Regions from separate parts of the Homo sapiens genome. Here all the other regions are reported to be linked to region 1. The links are microRNA targets in miRTarBase. Many come from high-throughput screens and were not tested one by one. Region 1 holds a microRNA gene; each other region holds the end of a gene's coding sequence.

Region 1 (5,059 bases):
CCGGCCAGCAGCCCTCTGTGATGTGTGTGCAGAGTGAACAGAGGACTCAGGTTTCATAGCAGCTAGTGCGGGGCATCCTCATCCTGTACCTATAGAGTTCGTGCACTCCCCCATCCATGCTACCTACCTCCCCGTTTCTGTTTCAGTTTTAAGACAATGAAGCAGCATTCACTGCGTCATTGTAACATGAAGGGATAAAAATGAAGGAGAAGGAGGGTTTGGGATGGGTGTCTAAGGCAGGAGTTGACATCGGGCAACCAAAGAAATGAGTTTTGGGGAGGAACACAACTCCCATCCCAGTCAGTTTCCTTCCCATGGCTGCATCTTAAGATGGATGCACGGAGAAACCGTCTGCCTGGCTCCCTGTCTTCATTCTCCACGCAGCCTGGTGATGGCAGGCCTGGGTTTGGATTTCAGAATCCTAGCTCCGGGCTCCACTCGTGTGGCAGCAAGACTGCTTCGTTCCAGCGTTTAGAAACACACCTGTATTTGATTCTCAGCCAGGGGAGCACTCGCTGCACTGGTGGGAGGCGGTTGGGAAAGTTGCAGGAAAACCTTAGTCTTCCATCCTTCTGACCCATGGTGGAAATTCACACCATGGATTTTTAATGGATCTTTGTTCTAGGCAGCTGGGAATAGACATGGTACTTACCTTAGAGTTTTCCAATTTATCTCAATTTTATATGGCTTGTGATTCATTTTCTTAATCCAAATATATATAAACGTGTGTGGTCTTATTCTTCCCCCTGCAGTTTCTTGCTTTCTTCAGCACATCTTATAGTATGAGAAGGAAGGTTTGGGCATGTTGGGAAGGGCGGTGGAGGGGGAGTTGCAGAAAGAGAGGGCAGTGAGGGTGAGGAGAGGGGATCTGGGGACTTGGGTGTGACACCTGCTTGACAGAGGCAGGGCTGTGGCCAGGACCAACCTTCAATTCCATTCCAATCAGCCTTTGCATTTGTTGGATCTCGTGGCTTCTTTTTAATCTTTTGTTGGGGATTAGTTTCATGCTGCACATAATGGGGTTGCACTGGTCTGACCCAGGACTTTGGAGCCACCCACACTGGGAAGACTAGGCTAGGCAGTCGGTCTTCTAGGAGTTTCTCAGCCCCTTAGGACGCGGGTCTCCTTGGGCTCCCCCAAGGGTTCTGCGAAGAGGCAGTGGAAGAAGGCATGAGGAGAGGGTCTCTTGAGAATTTGCCAATAGGAAGGAGTGGCCACGGCTGAAAGGAACAAGACAGATCCTGACATAGCTTTGGCCTGGGTGTTAGGTCAGAAGGAGTACTGGTGCGTGGGGGCCTTACCCCAGGGTTGAGTATTTTATCTGTAAAATGTTATCTGCCCTTTGGCTGCATTGGAATTTCAGAGAAGGCTGCAGAGGCCTGGGTTACACAGCCTGAGTCACAACGTGGGAAGGAATCTCTGCCACGGGAAAGGTGGGCGGAAGCAGCTGGCAGCCTGGGGCGTGCTTCAGGCTCCTCCCTCTAAGGGGCGCCATGGGAACAGGCTCCGGAGGGAGCCGGCGTCTGAAAGGCCCCCGGGACCTGCTGCAGTGCCAGAGGGGCCTCTGGAGCAGGCCTGGCTTTTAAATGGGGGGCTGAATTCCAGCTCACACACACCTCAAGTCCAACCTTACTTTCTTCAGCCAGAATACATTTCTTGTAAAACCTGGCTTGTTGCTTGGCTTTTAAAGATGGTGTATGTTTGTAAAAATATTCTTCTGGGCTCAAAAGCTAGCTTGAGGGGGCAGATGCCCCAGGTGTCCCAGCTCCACAGCCCCTGGCAGATCCCAGACCCCTTGGTGGCAGGTCCCAGAGCCTAGGTGGTAGGAGCTTGATCTTTGTTTCTGCCCTTACCCCTCAGTAGTGGGGCTGCGAGGTAGTAGACAGGATGCCCAGTTAAGTTTGAATTTCAGATAGAAAATAATTTTAGAATAAATATGTTCTATCTAATACATGGGACAGATGTTATTTTTAGAGATAGGATCTTGCTCTGTTGCCCAGGCTGGAGTGTAGTGGTATGATCATAGCTCACCACAACCTTGAACTCCCAGGCTCAAGCGATCCTCCCGCCTTAACTGCCTGAGTAGCTGGGACTACAGGCATGCACCACCACGCCCAGCTAATTTTTCTTATTTTTTGTAGAGACAGGGTCTCACTGTGTTGCCTCACTCGAGCTGCTGACCTCAAGTGATCCTCCCACCTCAGCCTGCCAAAGCACTGGGATTACAGGCATGAGCCACCATGCCTGGCCAGGACATATTTGAAATGGGGAGATTTTAAAAATTCTGATGATTAGACTGAATCCTCAGACGTTCTGGTTTGATTGTTGTGGGTGTAGCCCAGGCATGGGATTTTTTAAAGAGCTGCTCAGGTAATTCCAATTTAATTGCGTGTCCTACTTGGGTTTTTTGTTTGTTTTTATTGTTTTTGCTAAACCTGGCAACCCTACCGAGTAGGGATTAGCAGTAACTTATCTGAAATTTAGAGGTGTTTTGGGGGTGGGGCGAGGGTTTCTGTAGTAGACTCAGATTTTACATGGCCCTGAGCTGCCCTTGCGTTCAGTTGGAAGCCACGCAAAATGAACTGAACCAGGAGTGAGCTTCGTGTACATTATCTATTAGAAAATGAAGTACCTTCTGGTTCAGCTAGTCCCTGTGCGTTGAGAGGCTTTAAGAAACTTCTAGTAAAAATGTTTTTTTCTTTTAGCTTTGAATTGGCCAGAGTTTATCCTAGATTATTTTATTTTAAATTGGTAGAATTCTTTGCGAACTGTCACAGAGAAATTCCTTTTCATGACTTTATTTCTGACCTATTAAAACATGAACAGGCCAGGCATGGTGGCTCACGCCTGTAATCCTAGCACTTGGGAGGCAGTGGCAGGCGGATCACTTGAGCTCAGGAGTCCTAAACCAGCCTGGGCAACATAGTGATACCTTGTCTCTACCAAAAGTTAAAAAAAAAAAAAAAAAAGCTCAAGAACCTGCACGAGGGCCTAAAACAGTGGGCTCAGCTTTGGCTGTGCATTGGAATCACCTGGGGAGATTTGTAAGCTTCTGCTGTCTGGGCTGAACCCCCAGAGGTTCGGATTGAATTGGTGTGGGGTGTGGTCCAGGCATCGAGATGTGTAAAGACCTCCCCAGGTGATGATATGCAGTCCGAGGTTGAGACTGCCCTGTCCTGCAAGGTCGTTGGCCAGAGGTAGAGGAAACTGGTCAAAGTGGCTGTTGGGCTTGTCAAGCCCGTGGCTGAATGACAGTGAGCTCTCTTGCTGGGAGGGTTCCTTTTCCTGTTGTTGAATGGTCCTGGCCTGCAGGATGGGAGGCCAGATGCCTTCAGGAGCTGGTGGATCCAGCTGTTCTCACCAGCCTGGAGGTTAGCAGACCAGAGTGGGTGGGCAGGACCTTGGCCTGGTGCCCCTGGAATCAGTGGGTGGCATGTGTTGGGATATACTGGCTACAGGCTCATCTCAAAGAGCAGGTAGAACAGAGTCAGCAGGGAACTGACAGGTGGGGCTGTCCCCCTGAAAGCAGCCGCAGAAACAGCTGCCACCTATTTGCATAGCTGAGCAGGAGGACATACTGTCTTTGTGGGTTTTGCTTCTGGTCTGTTTCCTGACTGGGTTGATAAAGGGAGTCCCAGCTCGTTCCCTGTTAGCCAAACCAGCATCCTACTCACACACCGGACACTCCAGGTGCTAGTCCACTGGTGCTGGTGTTCAGGGGAGTTGGGGGGGGGGGGCGCGGGGACAGAAGCGCGGGTTCTTGGTTCCAATGAGGGACTTAGCAGAAGCCTCCAGGGGCCAGCAGGGCCAGGTGAAACTGGGAGAAATGAAGCCCTCTGTGTCCTGTGTGTGTGGTGGGGTTTAATGCATTAGCAAATTTAAACTTAAAAACTAACTCTAGGCCGGGCACGGTGGCTCACACCTGTAATCCCAGCACTTTGGGAGGCCAAGGCAGGTGGATTGCCTGAGCTCAGGAGTTCGAGACCAGCCTGGACAACATGGTGAAACTCTTGTCTTTATTTTTTTAAAAAAACAAAAAGTAACTTTCGATGTGATCATACCAGGAAAGTTTTGCGTGGTCACCATGCCAAGAAAATGACTTTGGTTGCCCAGCAGATCCACAGCGACTCTTTCTCAAGGGCTACTGTGGATTCTAGATTGAGGAAAGGGGCCACTTAGGACTCAGTGCTGGTATCCTCCACAGTCCTTTCTCCCAGACTCTGGCCCTCCCTTTGGGACCCAGGAAATCCCCTCTAGGGTGACGCTGCTGGCTAGGAAGACTGAGGTCTGCTGCGCCAAGGGGCCTCAAGTTAGAAGGGCCATGCCGTCAGTGGATGACTTTGAGCGCTGATCCTAGGGACCTGCCAGGTCCTCACTTCCTGCCCTGGGTGCACACATGAATGGGGCAGCCAGCAGGAAGCGGGAGAGGCTGGAACCAGGAGCCTGCCCTACCTGCATGGCAGGACAACTCTGAGGCCCTTCTGCCATATTCTCTGCTACCCACCAGAGAAAATAGGCTGCCTTCTAGAAAGATTTGTTTCTAAAAGCGTAGACCCTGGGGAAGTATAATGTCACCATGCTCACCAGGCGAGGTTTCCCATATGACCTCCCTGCCCCGACCTCGTAGGTTGCTCCTTTCCCCATCTGTAAGGTAGAGATGTCTGCCCCGGAGCTACCAGCTGGGGATGGCATCCAGGCCATGTCTCCTGCAGGATCCAAGTGCTGTTGTCCCCAGGGTGACCCTGCCTCCTGCTGGGGCCCATCCGCTTTGCTGTGCTGCACAGGCTGTTTTCATCTGCATGGTTTGGGGTCTTTGTCCTTGTGCCTTTTCTTCCCCATCGCCACTGTACAGGATTTTCCACATTGCCCACTGCCTCCTTTTCTACATCGTCTCATCTCCCTGGCCTTTCCCGAGCCCTGTAAATGTGTACTTTTTCAACGTGCCTCCCCCAGGTGAGGCCAGCTCTCCCGGGCACATTCGTCCACAAGGATCAGGCCCCACTTACCCTTGGCTCGCTCAGCCTGTAGACTTGGTAACTTTGTACAGAATCTTTCATTA
Region 2 (4,000 bases), not on the chromosome of region 1:
AATCCTTCCACCTCAGCCTCCTATGTAGCTGGGACCTGAGGCATGTGCCACTACACCCAGCTAATTTTTTGATTTTTTTTGTGGAGACAGGGTTTTGCCATGTTGCCCCAGGCTGGTCTCTAACTCCTGGGCTCAAGTGATCCTCCCACCTCAGCTGCTTAAAGTGCTGATATTACAGGCCTGAGCCATCATGCCCATCACCAATTATCACATTTTTAGAAATTTTGCATCCTAGTTACTAAACCAGTGGTAGATTGAAATTGACCATGAGGGAGCATGAGCATTTACATTGAGCTGGCAAATGCTGTATGTCAGGATTCCTCCTCCAGAGTCTGCTATTAAACATGTACCAGCCACCATTATATATATGCTAGATACACTGCAGTTATTAAGAATTATATATATGTACACGTATATATACTATTGATACAGTGTAATTGTTAAACATTTAAAAAAATGAAATACAACTTTCAGGGCACATTTCAGCCAAATTCATATTTATTCCAGTCTCTAACACTCTGTTGTTATGTCTGCTGTAAGATGATCAGGAGTTAGTATGAAGTATTCTTCTCTACGCACCAAAGAAAACAAACAAAGCAAACTTCAAGTCAGTGAATTAGTTACCACAGTTAAAATGCATTTGATTTTGTCCTTTTCCTTTTTCACAAGAACGACAGCTGAATACTCTTTCATGTGATGCCTGATATTTTTCTTTTTCTTTTTCTCTCTTTTTTGAGACAGGGTCTTTAAGATGGGGTCTCGCTCTGTTGCCCAGGTTGGAGTGCAGTGGTGCAATCTTGGCTCATTGCAACCTCAGCCTCCTGTTTTCAAGTGATTCTTCTGACTCAGCCTCCCAGGTAGCTGGGATTACAGGCATGTGCCACCGTGCCCGGCTAATTTTTGTATTTTTAGTAGAGATGGGGGTTTCACCATGTTGGCCAGGATGGTCTCGAACTCCTGACCTGAAGTGATCCACCCGCCTCGGCCTCCCAAAGTGCTGGGATTACCGGTGTGAGCCACTGTGCCAGGCTCTGATGTTGATATTTTTCTGTTACAGTCCTTAGCCCAGGCATCCTGTAGCACTCTGTGTCCCAGACTTTTTGATGCAGAAACAAGACTGAAGGAAGATTGTCCAATATAGGAAAGATTCAACTTTTCCTCTATGTGTTTGTCCGCTGGTATTCCTATGAGGCATTTGAGTTACAGGTAGCAGCACATCAGCAAATGACTCCGCTCCCTCTCTCAGCACACATAGCCTAATTGTTACAGAACCCCGAAGGGACACCTGAATGTCCTTTCTTTCAAGGCAATATGTATGACACGCTTTCAAATCTCCTCCTGCCTACTCTGCTTACCTAAAGGGCAAGGGGAGAAAATCCAGCACTGACATAGAGTCTGTAGGTTGAATAAGGCAGCCAAGATTAGAGAGATGTAAGTGAAGAAACCCACTTTATCTGGCTTTGGAGAGAGCTAGTGACTTAAGGCAGGATGTTCATCTGTATCATGTTGACTGGGACAGTCCTGGTTGTTCCCAGTGCAGCTCCATTATCATCCATCTGGCAGTGGGGAGTCTCTGCTGCCCATGTGGTGCTGGCATATGCAGTTCTGCTCATGCTCCTAACGTGAATGCATAAAACACCCCTGCAGTGCCACAGCACTGCTATGAGTTCATGGAAGGCGTAGGTGAGGATACAAGGCAAGAGTGCTCTGGCACCAACACTTGGAGGGGCCACCTGAGCATAAGTTTTCTTAGAGGCTCAGAATTCAAATTGCTAATAGGCTCTTGGAGCAAAATTGCAAAGGACAGATAGGCTTGTTGGTGGCTTCTGTTTTCTTCGCTAACAATCCAGGTTAGTTCTGATTTCCTTCCTGGTCACTTAAAACACCTTAGTAAGTGTGTTAATTGACTTTTAGAGTTGCAAAGGGCTTTTTATTCCATTCAACCCCTGTTCAATTTACAGGTGAGGAAACTGAAATAAGGTACTTAAGTGACTTGCCTAAAGTCACGCAGCTGGCGAGAGGTAGGAGCAGGCTTTCTGACACACTCATCTGGCATTCTTGAGGCTATCCCTACAAATCCTCTTGACCTCTGGTAGAAATTCCACCTCCACCAAATATCTTTCTAAATACATTCATAGCTGGGTGGCTGGATATGGACTCTGAAGCAGAAGATGCTTCATGAAATATTTTTGGTTTATCTAATAACTTTGGTCCAAATACGTATACAGAACTATATACTGAGGTAGCATTACTGAATTTGCCATACGAAACATCTTCACTTTCATCCATCAGGTCAGAATTTGGGAGTCAAGTCACAGACTACTTAAATTGGGTCTTTTTCTTCTTAGACAAATTTATACGACTTTTTTACATTTTTGGCCATCTTCCTATTTAATTCTTTTATGCGATGAATGTATATTTCATGAGGCAATAATTAACCTTCACCAACTTGGCAGGTTGCTTTGTTAGTCAATTATAAGGCTAACAAAATATAAAGGTCATGACTTTGGGAGAAGAAATGCCTTGTGACTCTAAGAGGTTCAGTGACTGCTGATCTACACTTTAGGACTTGTATGATCACCCCCTTTTTATACTAGAATTTAGGCTGTTTGGAGTTGACTTTTACTATTTCAGCTATCAGAATGATGCAGCATTGAATTCCTCCCAAGTGGCTAATCTAGTACGAATACATTAGCAACCCAAATCAGCCTATAAGGAATCAAGTTAAATGATCTTATACTCATGTCCTTTTTTCTACACTTGGGATTTTCACGCAAAAATAAAGACTGACTTACTTGGTAATATTATGATTACAGAATTTGAGTTGCTTCTAAAAAATAATGCAGAGAGAAATACTGAAAATGATGAAGACTTTTTCAAATGTTATAATACGGTCATTTATAAATGACTATTTATATATGTCAGTTACATACATAGTGACAGTTATAGTAAAACACTAGGAACCTGTACTTAAAAAGAAAAAACAAAATCCTGTACACAAAACAAGCATACATATATAAGGATTTGAATCTATGTATATATATTTTACATTTTTCAACATTTGTGTTTTATTCCATTAACATAACCATTTACAGTTATTCCAGAAATTTCAGTCATACACAGTGCTCTTGAATCCAAAGAGTGGTCTAGTGTGTTGGCATTTTCATCAAGTACAGTCCTAGAAAATGTCAAGTTGAACAATAAGATATTGAGGCACATTGGTCACTGTGTATTCTGAATTCTTTAGTATGGTCAGAGGAAGTAGTTAATATATTTCATGTTGATTCTTTGGCTACTCTTGATTTTTGCTTTGGGTAACATCCTCATCCTGGGAACATTCATTACCACTTAATAGCAAGATAACATTAAAAAAAAATCCTTCATTGCCACATTTAATAGCATGTTTAAAAAGGCAGAGGTTGCAATGAGCTGAGAACGCACTACTGCACTCCAGCCTGGGTGACAGAGTGAGACACTGTCTCCAAAAAAAAAATGTTTAAAATGAGACCAAACCCTCATGGAGACATTTCTCTGTTCTATTAGAAACGCAATGGCATTCTCATAGATCCTCTTTCTTTTTTATGATCACTTGTCTAACCAGAGCTGCTATGTCAGGCCTGATGACTTCAATGGGCTCCTCTGGCTTCCAGAACTTCACAACTTGACCCTCAGGGTTGACAAGATACTTCCAAAAATTCCACCTTGGTTCCTTCTTTGAAGAATCTAAAATATCCAGAACATATTTTCATGAGCATAATTTTATTCTTTGTCAAGATTTTCACTTCTATTAGTATCTGCATAAATGATAACTTTAGTATCAAGTTCTAGGACTGTCATAATATAAAAAACAAAACACCCAAACGAAGTGAAACTCAAGGTTAGAGTAACCAGATTTCAATATACTTGATGACTTCACCTATGAGTCTACTCATCTAGTATGTGATCTTAGTATCAAGAAATGAAGCAAAGTAGGCTGGGAGCCGTGGCTCAGTCTGTAATC
Region 3 (4,000 bases), not on the chromosome of region 1:
TCATGGCCAAATCCAAAGTGAATCTGTCCTTTCCCCTAGAATGGTCTTGAAACCCTTCCATAGATTTATGTTGTCTGCCTTTATGTGAATGGTTTTAACAACTGAGAAATGTACTACAATGTCTTTATCTTTGATCGTCCACTTAGCCGTTATCAAATAAAGATTAGTATTTCTTACCTTCCAGTACCTTTTCTCCCTACTCCTGTCACCTCCTCACATCACTCATCAGCTTCAAAACTATAATGACTATTTCAGTAGAAGGCAAGTTTCTAGTTCCAAACTTTAAAATATAAACATCAACATACTTCTTCCATTGGCCCTGGTACCAATGCGTGTGCACTTACTGAACCTGCTTTCTGGGTTTCAGAAAACAAGAGTCAGATTTCAATAATGATTATTGAAATACTCTACTGAATAGGTCAGAACTTAATTTTTTGACTTTTATTTTTCACAGAACCACATGGGCTCAGACTTAATTTTTAAGATTCCATTAAAATATTTTGGTTGAAAATGTGATTTCATACTTGTCATTTTAAGGAGTATTTGTCATTTACACTCTATTATCTTCTTCATTTAGGGGCCACTGTATTTTGTGTTGCTCCGAATGCAGTATTTCCATTTGAACTGTATAATGAAGAATACTTAGAGCAAAGGGATCTCTATCTGACTCAGTGCCAACAACAGCTGGAACAATTTATTGCCACATATGGACCTGGGACAACTATTTTCTCTAGTGATGAATAAGCAATTTGAGGAATTTTTGTTCATTCCTACTTAAGCAGTGGAGAAAAAGTGTGACTATTTTGAGAGTGACTTTGAAGTAATGCTTTGATAATACTCTGTACAGGAATATATTACAATACTGTTTTTAAAAATATAAAATATAGTCCCCTCAAAACTAATTGCTAATGGGATAAATACTAATCCAAACCTCTAAAACCAACAGAATTTTAAAACTTAGAACAATGTGGACAATTTAAAGTGATAAAGTTGTCAAGGAGAATACTATAAAGAAAAACCTGGTTAGCCCAGAATACCAGTGGTGAACAGATAAAAATGTAAATGTTGCAATTTGAGCAGTGTGTAAAATGGCAACCTTTATGTAGTTCACTCTACTGTCACAAGATGGCAATAACTCTTTACCTACAAATTACTCTAAAACATTTTTCTTCCACTTGTGAACTTGCTAAACTGATGAGTAAATACTTTATATAACCCGAAGCTTCAAATGTAAGGCCTTTTCATACTTTATTACTGGCCTGTCCATTACATACTACTGTTTTAGAAGCCCTAAATATGGAATCGGGAAAAGCCTTGGAAGTTTTCCATACGTATACGCTAGGTTAAATGAAAAAAATACTTTACACGGAAACAAGGAGCCAATAACTTATAAATTGGCTCTCTAACCCTAACTGGTTACAAGAAAGGCTCCAAAAGGCAAAGAAACCAACTTGCAAATCTAGTCCTCATTTTTGGAGGGAAGATATCTGCTCTGAAAAGATAGGGGCACCATGAGAAAACAAATCCATCTTGTAAAATTTATAAATCCTTTTTAGTTCAGTTTCCATAACTTTAATAAAAGATCAGTTCTATTCACAGAAAAGCAAAATGTCATTACCAAATTGCCACTTTATTAACCAAGATGTTACCATGCATCAATTCTTTCAAAACTGGTCCCTTAACAGAGATGCTTAACTGTACAGCTGGACCTCTCCCACTCTCCACAGGACCCGGAGGAAGTTGTTCACTATTACTGAATACCTACTAGTAGCAGGGAGTAAACAGTATTAGTTTTCAGAAGCCAAAGGTAGTGTTTTTGTTTTTTGTTTTTTTGAGATGGGGTCTCGCTCTGTCATGCAGGCTGGAGTGCAGTGGTGTTATCTTGGCACTGCAACCTCCACCTCCCGGGTTCAAGTGATTCTCCTGCTGGGATTACAGGTGCACTCCACCATGACTGGCTAATTTTTGTATTTTTAGTAGAGACAGGGTTTCACCATGTTGGCCAGGCTGGTCTTGAACTCCCGACCTCAGGTGATCTGCCTGCCTCAGTCTCCCAAAGTGCTAAGACAACAGGTATGAGCCAACACGACTGGCGACTGTAGTTTTCAACAAAATACTTACATATTACAGTTCTATAATGTTAAGACGTTTATTTTGTGCTTCTCAAATACTACATTTCAAACATGTCTGGCTCTCTATGGGGGGAAGGCAAAACACATTCCTATTTTATAAAACTAGGATCCTTTTACAATTGGAAAGTTTAAAAACTTTTTTTTTTGGAGACAGGGGCTGTCACCGTTTGGAGGGTTGTGGCGCCACCTCAGCTCCCTGCAGCCTTGACCTTGCAAGTAATTCTCCCACCTTAGGCCTCCGAGTAGCTGGGACTACAGGGACATGCTACCACCCTGGGATAACTTCTGCATTTTTTGTAGAGATGGAATTTTGCCATGTTTCCCAGGCTGGTCTCAAGTCATCCTCCCATCTCAGTACCTCAGCTTCCCAGTGTTGGGATTACAGGAGTGAGCCACCATGCATGGCACAAAGATGGCTTTTATTTACTTATCTATATTTATATATACATATTTATATGTAGCTGTCACCCAAGCTGTAGTGTACTGATGCAATCATAGCTCACTGCCACCTTAATCTCCCCAGCTCAAAAAACCCAACCTCAGTCTCAAAGATGGTTACTTCACCACAAAAAAATTAAAATGTTTAAGTTTCTCATTAAAGAGTAGAAGTGTACATTCAGAAACAATTATGGGAGGTAATTCATTAATATTAAATATGCCAACGGTATTTTAAAGGTTATTGGAGAATTAGAAGGGGGTGGGGTGCAGGACGAAAAATTAATGGGTGCAATGTACACCATTCAGGTAATGGCTGCACAAAAAGCTCAGACTCCAAACTACTTCATATACCTATGCAACAGAACTGCACTTATACCCCCCAAATCTATACTGAGGGAAGTGACTAAGATGTTGCTATACAGGTTTTATACCATTTATCATATAAAAATTATAACCTTGGTAAAAGGAATTTATAAGCTAGTACTCAACAGGAGAAAAGATTTAGCTCTAAACCTTCACCCAGATATAAATTCAGCTTTAGAATTCTTGCCAATTTAGTCCTAGACAGACTGGTCTGCTCAGTCATTTCTCTTAACATAGCATATTGCTTAGTTATTACATGTACTAGTATTAGGATGACTTTTTTGTTCACAAAGATGAAAGCAAACTGAATAAAAAAGGTGAAACCTTTATCTGTAAGGGGGAATTTGATTGCTATTTGGTATTAAAGAGTTTTAAGATTCAACCACCTGGTACAACAGCAGGCTCTGAAGGGGAAGCCAGACAGGGAACCTAGAGGTACAAGCAATGTCTCCCCAGCTGTCAGCCTCAATGAGAATCACCACCCATAAATAAGCTAATTATTGACAAGATTATAATCTTTCGAATATGTTCAAAACAGGTCTGACTAGTGACTATGAGAATGGAGCTATTTAGAGTTGATTTAAAAGAAAACACTTTATTGTTCAGCAATTAAAAGTTAGCCAAATATGTATTTTTCTCCATAATTTATTGTGATGTTATCAACATCAAGTAAAATGCTCATTTTCATCATTTGCTTCTGTTCATGTTTTCTTGAACACGTCTTCAATTTTCCTTCCAAAATGCTGCATGCCACACCTCCAAAACAAAGTCAGAAACCACAGTGAAAATCATTCCATACTCAAAGTTCTCATATAACCTCAATATTCACAAGTGCCCCTCAAAAAACTAATGTTGAGAATACCACACATGCAAAAGCAACTTCAACAAGAATCTGCCCCCACCCTTAAGTTTATCAGATACTTTCTGAACTGTCAGCAGACATAGTTGCTTGACAAATCACTTACTTGAGGTAACGAAGCAGAAGTATTTTTAAACATGACAGCTAAGAACATTCATCTACAGCAACCTATATGCTAAAAACAAAGAATATTCACCCTTAATTAAAT
Region 4 (4,000 bases), not on the chromosome of region 1:
CTTGGACCATCCCACCACAACTCCCACAGAACACCTTCTCATCTCTCAGGACAAGCCCACAAAAACCACCCTGAGAGACCTCGAACCTGCAGGAAGGTCCAGGAGGGCTGCTCCGCCTCGCTGCAGAAGGCGCGGCACCAGGCTGAGCTTGTCAACAGTCAACCAAACCTTAGAAAACCCCAAATCCTCCCCACAAATGAGTCATCTGAAAGTAAAACCCGTGGCTACAGGGAAGAGACACTGAGTCTCATCCTCTATGCCTCAGAAAATCACTATTAACTAAGAATCAGGGAACTGATAAACCAAATGCCCTCATCCCACAAAACCGTCCACACTGACAATCCCATTCTACTGCTACAGATTTCAAACGGCTCACAGATAAAGACAGGGCTGTCCACTCGCAGTCCCTTGAACGCTGGGGCTGGAAGGAACGGGATGTCCTGCGCTGCCTTTCCACTAAGCCTCTGCTCAACAGGTGTCAAGTGCCACTCTGTCCCCTGGGTCCCACCATCATCTGGCCACATTTACAGGCTGTGACAGCAGCAGCCAAATGTTCGGTTTTTACACTCTGTCCAGGCTTGACTACATTTCCCTTAGCTATCCCCTAAAAGCCTCACATCATGGTGATGAATTATAGATCAAATGCACTCCCGACTGTCATACCCTCTTAACTCACCGAGCCGTGCCATTCCCACGTGCTTCTAAATGGCCAGCAGAGCCACCAGAAACGGGCAGAGGCGAGAACATGACTTCAACTTGGTGTTTCTGGTGGATATGTTTTCAGACACCCAGAAGAACTGCGAAGAGACAGCTTCTCTGTATAGCATCCCTCGGAGATGCTGCAGACTTGGTTCCAGGCCATCGCAATAAAGCAAATATCACAGTAAAGTGGGTCACACAAATGTTTTGGTTTCCCAGTGCATATTAAAATGTTTATGCTACATGATAGTAGAAAGTGAGCAATAGCATTATGTCTTAAAGAATCCAATTATATACTTTAATTTAAAATATATTATTGCCAAAAAGTGAGCACATGCTGTTGGAAAAACGGCACCAACAGATCTGCTTGAAGCAGGGTTCCCACAAACCTTCAATATGGAAAAGAAACTCCACTGTATCTGTGAAAACACATAAAGCAAGTACAATAAAATGAGGTGTGCCTGTAATATGACCGTCCAACACAAGTAACCTTCCATCAGTGTTCCCACAAACACTGTATCCTCAACATGTCACCCGATGATGCAACCCCAGTACCTTGAGATGGGGTATATGGAGGATTTGCTCTTACATGTAGTAGACTGAGTGGGTCGAGGCTTAACAAAAGAAACTGCAAGTGAATGAGATAAAGCTACGGAATTTTGTTGAGTACAGCAATTTAGTGAGTCACTTCATTTTGCTAGATCTTCATTTCTGAAATGAATTTTAGACAAAATAACTGAAATCAATTATCAGGCCAGCCCACGAAGTACTGCTGAGCACAGGCATTGCTAGAAGTCACAACCAATAACACAACTGGCAGTAAGCGCCTTATCACAGAGATGGAGAACCTGATCACAGAGCCCACGACGGAGGCCCTGATGCCCATCTCCCTGCAAAGCAGATGAGATGTCCAAACTGTACTTCCAGACCTGGCCCATAAAATAAGATGGAGTGTGGAGATCACAAAAGTAGGTACCTACCTGGAGATAAGCTAACTCTAGATTTTTTACAGGAAAGCTAGTTTCATGCCATAAGATATTAAAGCTCTTCCTTACCAGAAAAAAACCTTATACAAAGCAAGACAGGCTGTATTTCCTGTGTTCTAAATTATCGTGGGAACCTCAGTTACATCCTCTCCTGCCATGTTTTGGGGCTTGGAGGTAAGAAAGAGGTAAAGCAAACAGATAACACTGTAAAGGGATGAGAGGTAAGTAGAAAAGAGAAAACAACTGAAAAAGCAAAAAAAGGTTCTTTGTCGTCTGCACAAAGCACTTCCTGCTCTGGGTTTCCATCATGCCTTTTCTGAGAACCAACACCTCGTTTCCTAATCCACTACTATCCCATGCTGTGACGGGAGGACCATGACCACCAGCACAAAGGACCACAGCAGAACATAAACAGTGCAGGTGAGGAAAATGCAAACTTTGCCGTAGAAAGCAGAACCATGTGAATTTCCCGTGAGTCACCCTCACTCTAAAGAACACTCACATATTTGGTAATGGCTCTCATGAGCTGGGCCGGTGACAGAGGGCATCTCCACCAGAACCATCTCCGGTCAGGCCACATGAGGGTGGAGGCATGGTATAGCTGACGTTCAGGTTGACGAGGAGACACTACAAAGGCTTGCCATCCTGGAATTTACCAAACCCAAGAAGCTGGACACTGATACTTTTTTTTTTTTTTTAAGACGGAGTCTCGTTCTGTCACCAGGCTGGAGTGCAGTGGCACGATCTCAGCTCACTGCAACCTCCGCCTCCCGGGTTCAAGTGATTCTCCTGCCTCAGCCTCCCAAGTAGCTAGGAGTACAGGCACATGCCCCAACGCCCAGCTAATTTTTATATTTTTAGTAGAGACAGGGTTTCACCATGTTGGCCGGGATGGTCTCGATCTTTTAACCTCGTGATCCACCTGCCTCAGCCTCCCAAAGTGCTGGGATTACAGGCGTGAGCCAGCTTGCCCGGCTGACACTGACGCTTCTTTTTAAAAGAAAACATTAACAATGACATCCAGCACATCTTTATTGCTCTGCTTGCTAACAAGCAGCACACCTGTGTTCCAGTGGTGAAATCCATGTGCTCAGCAACACAGTGCAGACTGCAGGCTTCATCACATCCCCAGCACGTGACCCATGGAAATCAGAGACTGGAGCTGCTTCCTGCCATTTCCGAGAATGAAAAGAAACAGAATTCACTAACATCTTAAAAATCCTTCTACAGTGATTTTATTATAAATATGTTCTTTTGGAATAAACAAATATTGCATTCAAGACTATGGGCAAACTTGCTCTAAAGTAACAAACGAGGAAGAAAGGAACCAGGAACCATTTAGAAGTGGAGAAAAACACAGCAAAGACACCTGCATGCCACGCTCAGCGCCTTTCTCCCAGGGAGTAACAGAAGGTTAACAGGGAACATCACATTGCCCATGAGCCCATTCTACTCAAATAAGCTTTGAGTTTGGTAATTTGCACTTGTTTTGTAAACTGAACTGCTCCTCTCCTCAGCCGCAAGAAGCAGATAGGAAGACAGTCTTCAGACCCCGAGCATCAGCAAGAACACTCTTGATTGTGTATCTGTAACTCTGTTCCAGGGCAAAACTGTTCCCTATTTGCTGGAAGTAATGTCAGAGTAATCCTTCAGCACTCCAGCCAAGTGTTCGTTATGAGTCTTAAAGCGTCGCTTTTTCTGTGAAGCAGGCTTTTTCCTTCTCTGAATAGGGGCCTAAAGGAAAAGGTAAAAACAATTAGAAACAACAGCTGCTCTGAGGGGTGGTGTGGCCAGGATGTTCTGAGCATGCCCAGATGCCAGTGGCTGAGGATGCCAGGTTCGGACCCTTCTCCTGCTCTGCCACCCAGCAGCACACATGGGGCACAGCACACGCCCTGACCAGACCCCGGGCCTTTGTTCCCCTGAGATGCAGATGCCATCGGGAATGAAGGAGCAGGCACAAAAACCTGCCAAAATGGTTCTAGGCACTAAGTCAAACAAAAGGGACGATGAAGCCCTTCAGCTCTGTCTCTGTCATCAGGTTTAAAAACGTATCCACCATTACCGATTTTAAAAAGATCTGAAGAAAATATGGCAAAATCCTGAGAAAGGAGGAGCACATGAAGGTCTGTAATATTCTCTATTCTTTTCTATATACTTGAAATATTAGCATCACATGATGAAAAAAATTAACAAATGAGACAATAATAGGAAATCATGAAGGGCTGCAATTACACTCATTTGTGGAAAGAGATTGACAATAAAGCTTCCCTTTAGGTGAGTCCTAAAAATTCACCAAACACACATGCCCACCC
Region 5 (5,059 bases), not on the chromosome of region 1:
CTGTATAAAAGATCTATTTATAAATTCAACATTCATGTAAAAATTCCATGTTGATTATAAGCCAAATTCATTTTAATGTTTTTAAAGTTTATTATTACTGACTTACCTTCTTGTGAAATGTAAACTATATTCATGTAAATGCTAATGCATTGCTTCTCTGTAAAGCAGTGCTAGGTAAAGGGCATAATATACAGTAGAAATTAGAATATAGTATGTAAGCCCTTTAGGATACTGAACTGGCATTCTATTTGCTTTTTTTTTCTTTTTTGATTTAGTCAAATGATATGTTAATGTTAAGAAAGTTCTGGAAGGTATACACACAGAGATATATACATATACATACTTTTTGAGAGATAATATGATTTTTATCATAATATATGAGTAAATTTTTTATCATTATTACAATATAGTTGATTAATTTAATCCACATCACATCACAAATGAAAAATCTGGGCCCATCCTTCAAAACTGTGATAAATGTATTGTATTATGCTTCATGAGTGAAGAGTACTTTGTTTTGTTCCTCTGCAGTGTAAACTATAGACTTTAGGATTTAAAAATTAGAGTTTCAACAAAGTCACATTTAATGAGTATGTATACATCTATATATAATCTAGAGACCAGTTACAACTGTTTCTTTACAATGAAAAGGAATGATAATTAAAAAAAAAACTGTGCCCAAATGCTATCATTAATACTGAATGTATTGAAGCCACAAATAAAGTTAAACACACTCAAATAGAAAACAGATCAACTGTGTAGATACAAACTGCATTGCTTGTATCGAACATCCTGATATCCAAACTATAAAAATATATTAAAATGATACATTTTTAATATTACTATAAGGAAAAAACAAATTAGCTAGAAATAATAATACTAATGACTCACCCACTGGTGTATTTGCCATTTCATTGGGACTTGCCAGTACAAAACAGTTTCTTAACGGCAAAAAATGGTAAACAAAAAGGATATGATTATTAGGTTCAAATTATTCATTCTAGACTGTGGAACAATATGGTTATTTTATCTGGTGAAACTAATAATGTTAACCAATCTTTTTTCATCAATTTCAAGTCTACTTTTTTTTTCTTCCCAGGAAGTTGGCCTTGTACTTGCAGCTATATTGGCACTACTACTGGCTTTCTATGCTTTCTTTTATCTCAGACTCACCACGGATGTTGACCCTGATCTGGACCAAGATGAAGATTAGCTAAGCAACAATCAATGCATGAAAGAGAAATAACTTTACGAAAGCACCTTTTGGGACCAAAACTTTCAATACTGAAACTGTAACATCTTTAATTCTTTCTGCTAATATTTTCAGTTTGCAGACATATGATTTTTGATAGTTGCATAGGATGTCAGGAAAAGAACCTTACCTAGCAATGCAGTATAGTATGTGCTACTGGATACTTTTATATATCTTTCTGCTTTGACAGCCACCCTATACATGGTACATTTAGATGAAATGGGAACCAGATCCTAAATTTTTCAAATGTCATTGCCAATTTATGTGTATAATTCCATCACTTCCTGATGAGTAAGTCTATTTTTGTTCTATATACATCATAAGTTAGTATATATTCTTATTTACAGAAACATGCTCAAATCACATTCAGAAAGAACAAAAAGTCATGGGAAATTTTTTATTTTACAACAAAGCCCTGCTTTCTTTCTGGACGTATTTTACATCATTAGAGAGACTATCTGCACATACATCTACCATAATCTTTTTCCTTCTTTGCCAACTGTTCAGTGCACATGTGCTGCATCAGAAATGGCACCTGGATGACAGAAGCTCAAAGAGTCACATATGTCTCTAAAATAGAGTTCTTTTCCTCTTGGGCTGTCTGAACTGGTGTAAATAGAAGCTCAGTTGATCTTGGTTTTAATTAACTTATTACTCTATTAATATAACCTTGGAATTCTATTCTAATTATGTTGTTCTGGCTGCTTGTAGTATCAGTTCGCCCCTCTTGTTAGGGAGATATGTAACAATCTGTCATTTAATTGAGCAGTCTTTTTCACATAACAGTAATAGCAAAAATCCTACCTACTCAGAATCATCTTCTTAGGTTGTCTCCTAAATCTGAACAATACAGTTGTTTTATAAAATTACATTTTGTCTCTTGAGATTTAATCAATTAGAACTCTTTAGGGAGAAAATAAATAATAGAAGAAAATATATGCCTCATATTTCATATGTAATTATCTGTTGATATAATTTTTCAATGTATTTTGTATTTGTGGGAGCATAATGACCTGTACATTCAATATTTTTACTGGTAATTCAATTTTTAAATATGTTTTTACAATGCTTGAACACATAAACCTTAGAAAACTGGAAAATACGTGTCCACAGAAAGAGTTATTAGCTACTACCTTATGTAAAGATGCATAGAAAATGAAATTGTTGGAAACATGTGCACAAAGTGTTTTATATTATATACATTGTATTTATGAAGAATAAATAAAATATTAAGATTGTTTTCCTGCTAGCCAAGAGAAGAAATCCTTGGGAAATATCTAAGGAGTATATGGGGCTTTATAAGCACTGTTTCTAAAAGATATTCTCTGGTACTTTTGCAAAAAGTCGACTGTGACTGTGTAGCATTATGTTCTGTAGAATTTTTTTCAAGTAGCATAATTTATTTCATTGGTGTGAAAACAGCCAAAGGTTCCAATATCCTCACAAATCATTTATGCCAAACATCTGAGGGCAAAATTTAGCCGGTGTTATTTACTAGATTCTTCCCTTTGAACTCACAGACTCAAGAGACAGACCAAGAGTTCTTATATACTCACCACAGCGGACCAATCCAAGTGGCATTTTTAGGAAAGGTTGCAGCATTTAATGCCATGTGGTATGTCTGTTCGTCAAGTGGGTGGCAAGGGAATATCCAAGCTGGCATTTTGGATATGATGGGCCTTTTACTTTCCTGAGTGACATGCCACATGTCAAGAAATACTGCTCCCCACCCCCCCACTCCCATCACATTTACGTGAACAATTTTCATTTAGTTATTTCCCGTTCCATATGGTGTTAAAACAGTCGTATTAAATAAAGATTATTTCTAGTTTTCAGTGGTAATTTAAATGAGAGGATATGTAATAATTGCTTATTAGATACTTATCCAAATGAAATATAACAGAGTTTACAGTACTTAAAATGGCTGGTTATGGTCTTGGAAATGTTTGAAAATTCATTATCCTGAAAAAAACTTTACCATTCTGTTTTACCCTTGAGGTATTTTTTGGGGAAAAATGTTTTTGATAACTATTAATCTAAATATAGTATAATTATAGGCAAATTTCACTGCCTAGTTTTATTGATATCCTGAGTCTACAGCTAGTCCATTCGTATGACTGATTGATTTATGATAGCTCCAGAGAACCATAAATTTCAAAGGCTAAACTCTCTGATTTTAGTAAATAGTAGGTAAAGTGACACAATATATGTTTACACAACACTGTTTTCATGAAATGCAAACTTTGCAAAACTCACATTAACTGGGAAGCAGCCAACCCTCTGTAGAGAAATCCCAGATTGGGAGTCTGGTTTGAATCTTTGAAGACAGAAAGGTGATATCCGGCCTGCTGTTTTAAAGGGACCACACTTTTGAATACCTACTGGTGTTTGGCAGAAATCTGAGACTGGCACCAGACACAAATTTTAGACATGGGTATCTTCCCTCCAGTAATTCACTGCTCAGAGTAATTTAGAAGACAAAAACAGAAAAAATTGTAATGATTTTTTAAGTGTTAGAATATGTTTGTTAACATACTCTGCAAAATAAATTTCAACTAATGCAATAGACTTAAAATATAGCCTATGGAATACTGTGATTGAAGTTTGAAGGCTTGCTGGTTCTTATTTTGCATGCAAGTTTAGACAGGGTAAAGAATGTATAAATTTATTTGAGATGAGATACAGTATTGTAAAAATATAACCTCATCTAGAATTGCTTTTAAAACAAGCAAAAGCCTATTTTAGTACAAATGTAGGGTGGGTAGTTGTTTTAAGGTAGCAAAATACTTCAAGATTTTCTATCTTTTTAATTTTTCATGAAGACAGAAGAAATACTTTCACCCCAACCAATGACTGTAAGATCTTGAGAGTATGTTCTTACTCATTTCTGTAATTGCAGTAGTGTAGTCATCTGCATATAAATTTAATAAATGCATGTTAAAATTTAAGTTGATGCCTTTTAGTCCTCTCAGAGTCTGTCACAGTTTCTTTGTGTAAATGATAAAAAAGTTTGAATTTAATCAATAAAACTTAAAAATCACAATATCAATCAACTCGGCATTTACCATTTATGGTCCTTGGTTGTACTGAGATATATACGTGTTTCATCCTGATTCTCTTTAAATCAAGACAACTAGCATTAAGGTCGCTATAAAATAGAAACATTGCTCTTTTCTAGGGAATCAAATATGCTATTTTTATCTTAGAATTTATTAAAAACTATACTCAATGTTTGAATTCAACTTAGCATGCATTTTCACTCCAAATGAAAATAGAACTCAATTTTCATTATAATGTTTATGTGACTACTAAAACACTGTATTTTCCAGGTTCTAAAATTATATACTCAATGATAATTCAGTAGAGCAAATTGTGCTATACATCAGCGTCAGAAATATACTTCTAGAAATTAAACCCAGCCTATTTTAATGTATTTCATCCATAACATAAAGTTGTTGAGCCAGAGACTACCTAAGATAATTTTGTATTCTCTCCTCACCAACAATTAGACTTCTTTACACTTACCTGGGGCTTCTCTGGGAGATTCCTACCACTTCTCCCTTAGCAGCACTGCCTTCTTTTATTAGAATTGCTCCAATGCAGCCTGGATAGAATGCTGTTTGCTAGATTTTGTTCCACTTAAACCATATTTAGAATCAGTGCAACCCACGGTTAAAAAAAAAATGTAGCAGATGAATTCAACCTACAGGAACATTCTTACCATTTTGTTGATATTTTAGCTATAAAGGTAAGTAGAGAGGGAACTGGGAGAGTCATGTAAAGAACTATATCAGTATGGAAATATCC

Evidence for each region. The annotated mature microRNA hsa-miR-4724-5p reads AACUGAACCAGGAGUGAGCUUCG and lies in region 1 at 2,581-2,603, shown strand. An mRNA with a match to its seed (bases 2 to 7 or 8) in the 3' UTR can be bound and repressed. Matches are read on the target gene's strand: a 7mer-m8 pairs with bases 2 to 8, a 7mer-A1 pairs with bases 2 to 7 and ends in A, and an 8mer does both.
Region 2: the mRNA of GPX8 is a reported target of hsa-miR-4724-5p. Seed matches in the 3' UTR shown: 7mer-A1 at 2,854-2,860 and 7mer-A1 at 2,250-2,256.
Region 3: miRTarBase lists MCMDC2 as a target of hsa-miR-4724-5p. Seed matches in the 3' UTR shown: 7mer-m8 at 1,556-1,562.
Region 4: miRTarBase lists GTF2E2 as a target of hsa-miR-4724-5p. Seed matches in the 3' UTR shown: 7mer-m8 at 3,181-3,187.
Region 5: miRTarBase lists TRIQK as a target of hsa-miR-4724-5p. Seed matches in the 3' UTR shown: 7mer-m8 at 1,754-1,760.

The regions. Positions count from the first base shown.
Region 1 is chr17:31,532,313-31,537,371 of GRCh38, forward strand. MIR4724 (microRNA 4724) reads left to right here and starts at 2,571; the gene lies at 2,571-2,659. RAB11FIP4 (RAB11 family interacting protein 4) reads left to right here. Exons shown (of 15, transcript NM_032932.6): 15 at 1-5,059. RefSeq lists an enhancer at 3,199-3,498.
Region 2 is chr5:55,163,778-55,167,777 of GRCh38, reverse strand. It overlaps GPX8 (glutathione peroxidase 8 (putative)), which reads right to left. Exons shown (of 3, transcript NM_001008397.4): 3 at 481-3,723. The coding sequence ends at 3,560. The region is part of intron 2 of CDC20B (cell division cycle 20B); the gene reads left to right. Among named protein-coding and RNA genes, the nearest start is that of MIR449A, 4.8 kb to the left of the region's middle.
Region 3 is chr8:66,918,426-66,922,425 of GRCh38, forward strand. MCMDC2 (minichromosome maintenance domain containing 2) reads left to right here. Exons shown (of 15, transcript NM_173518.5): 15 at 578-3,623. The coding sequence ends at 744. SNHG6 (small nucleolar RNA host gene 6) reads right to left here. Exons shown (of 4, transcript NR_152600.1): 3 at 3,899-3,960; 4 at 3,265-3,689. Among named protein-coding and RNA genes, the nearest start is that of SNORD87, 2.1 kb to the right of the region's middle.
Region 4 is chr8:30,575,619-30,579,618 of GRCh38, forward strand. GTF2E2 (general transcription factor IIE subunit 2) reads right to left here. Exons shown (of 8, transcript NM_002095.6): 8 at 2,700-3,419. The coding sequence ends at 3,303. Among named protein-coding and RNA genes, the nearest start is that of SMIM18, 61 kb to the right of the region's middle. RefSeq lists a silencer at 135-184.
Region 5 is chr8:92,882,776-92,887,834 of GRCh38, reverse strand. It overlaps TRIQK (triple QxxK/R motif containing), which reads left to right. Exons shown (of 5, transcript NM_001171797.2): 5 at 1,100-4,301. The coding sequence ends at 1,213. Among named protein-coding and RNA genes, the nearest start is that of TRIQK, 81 kb to the left of the region's middle.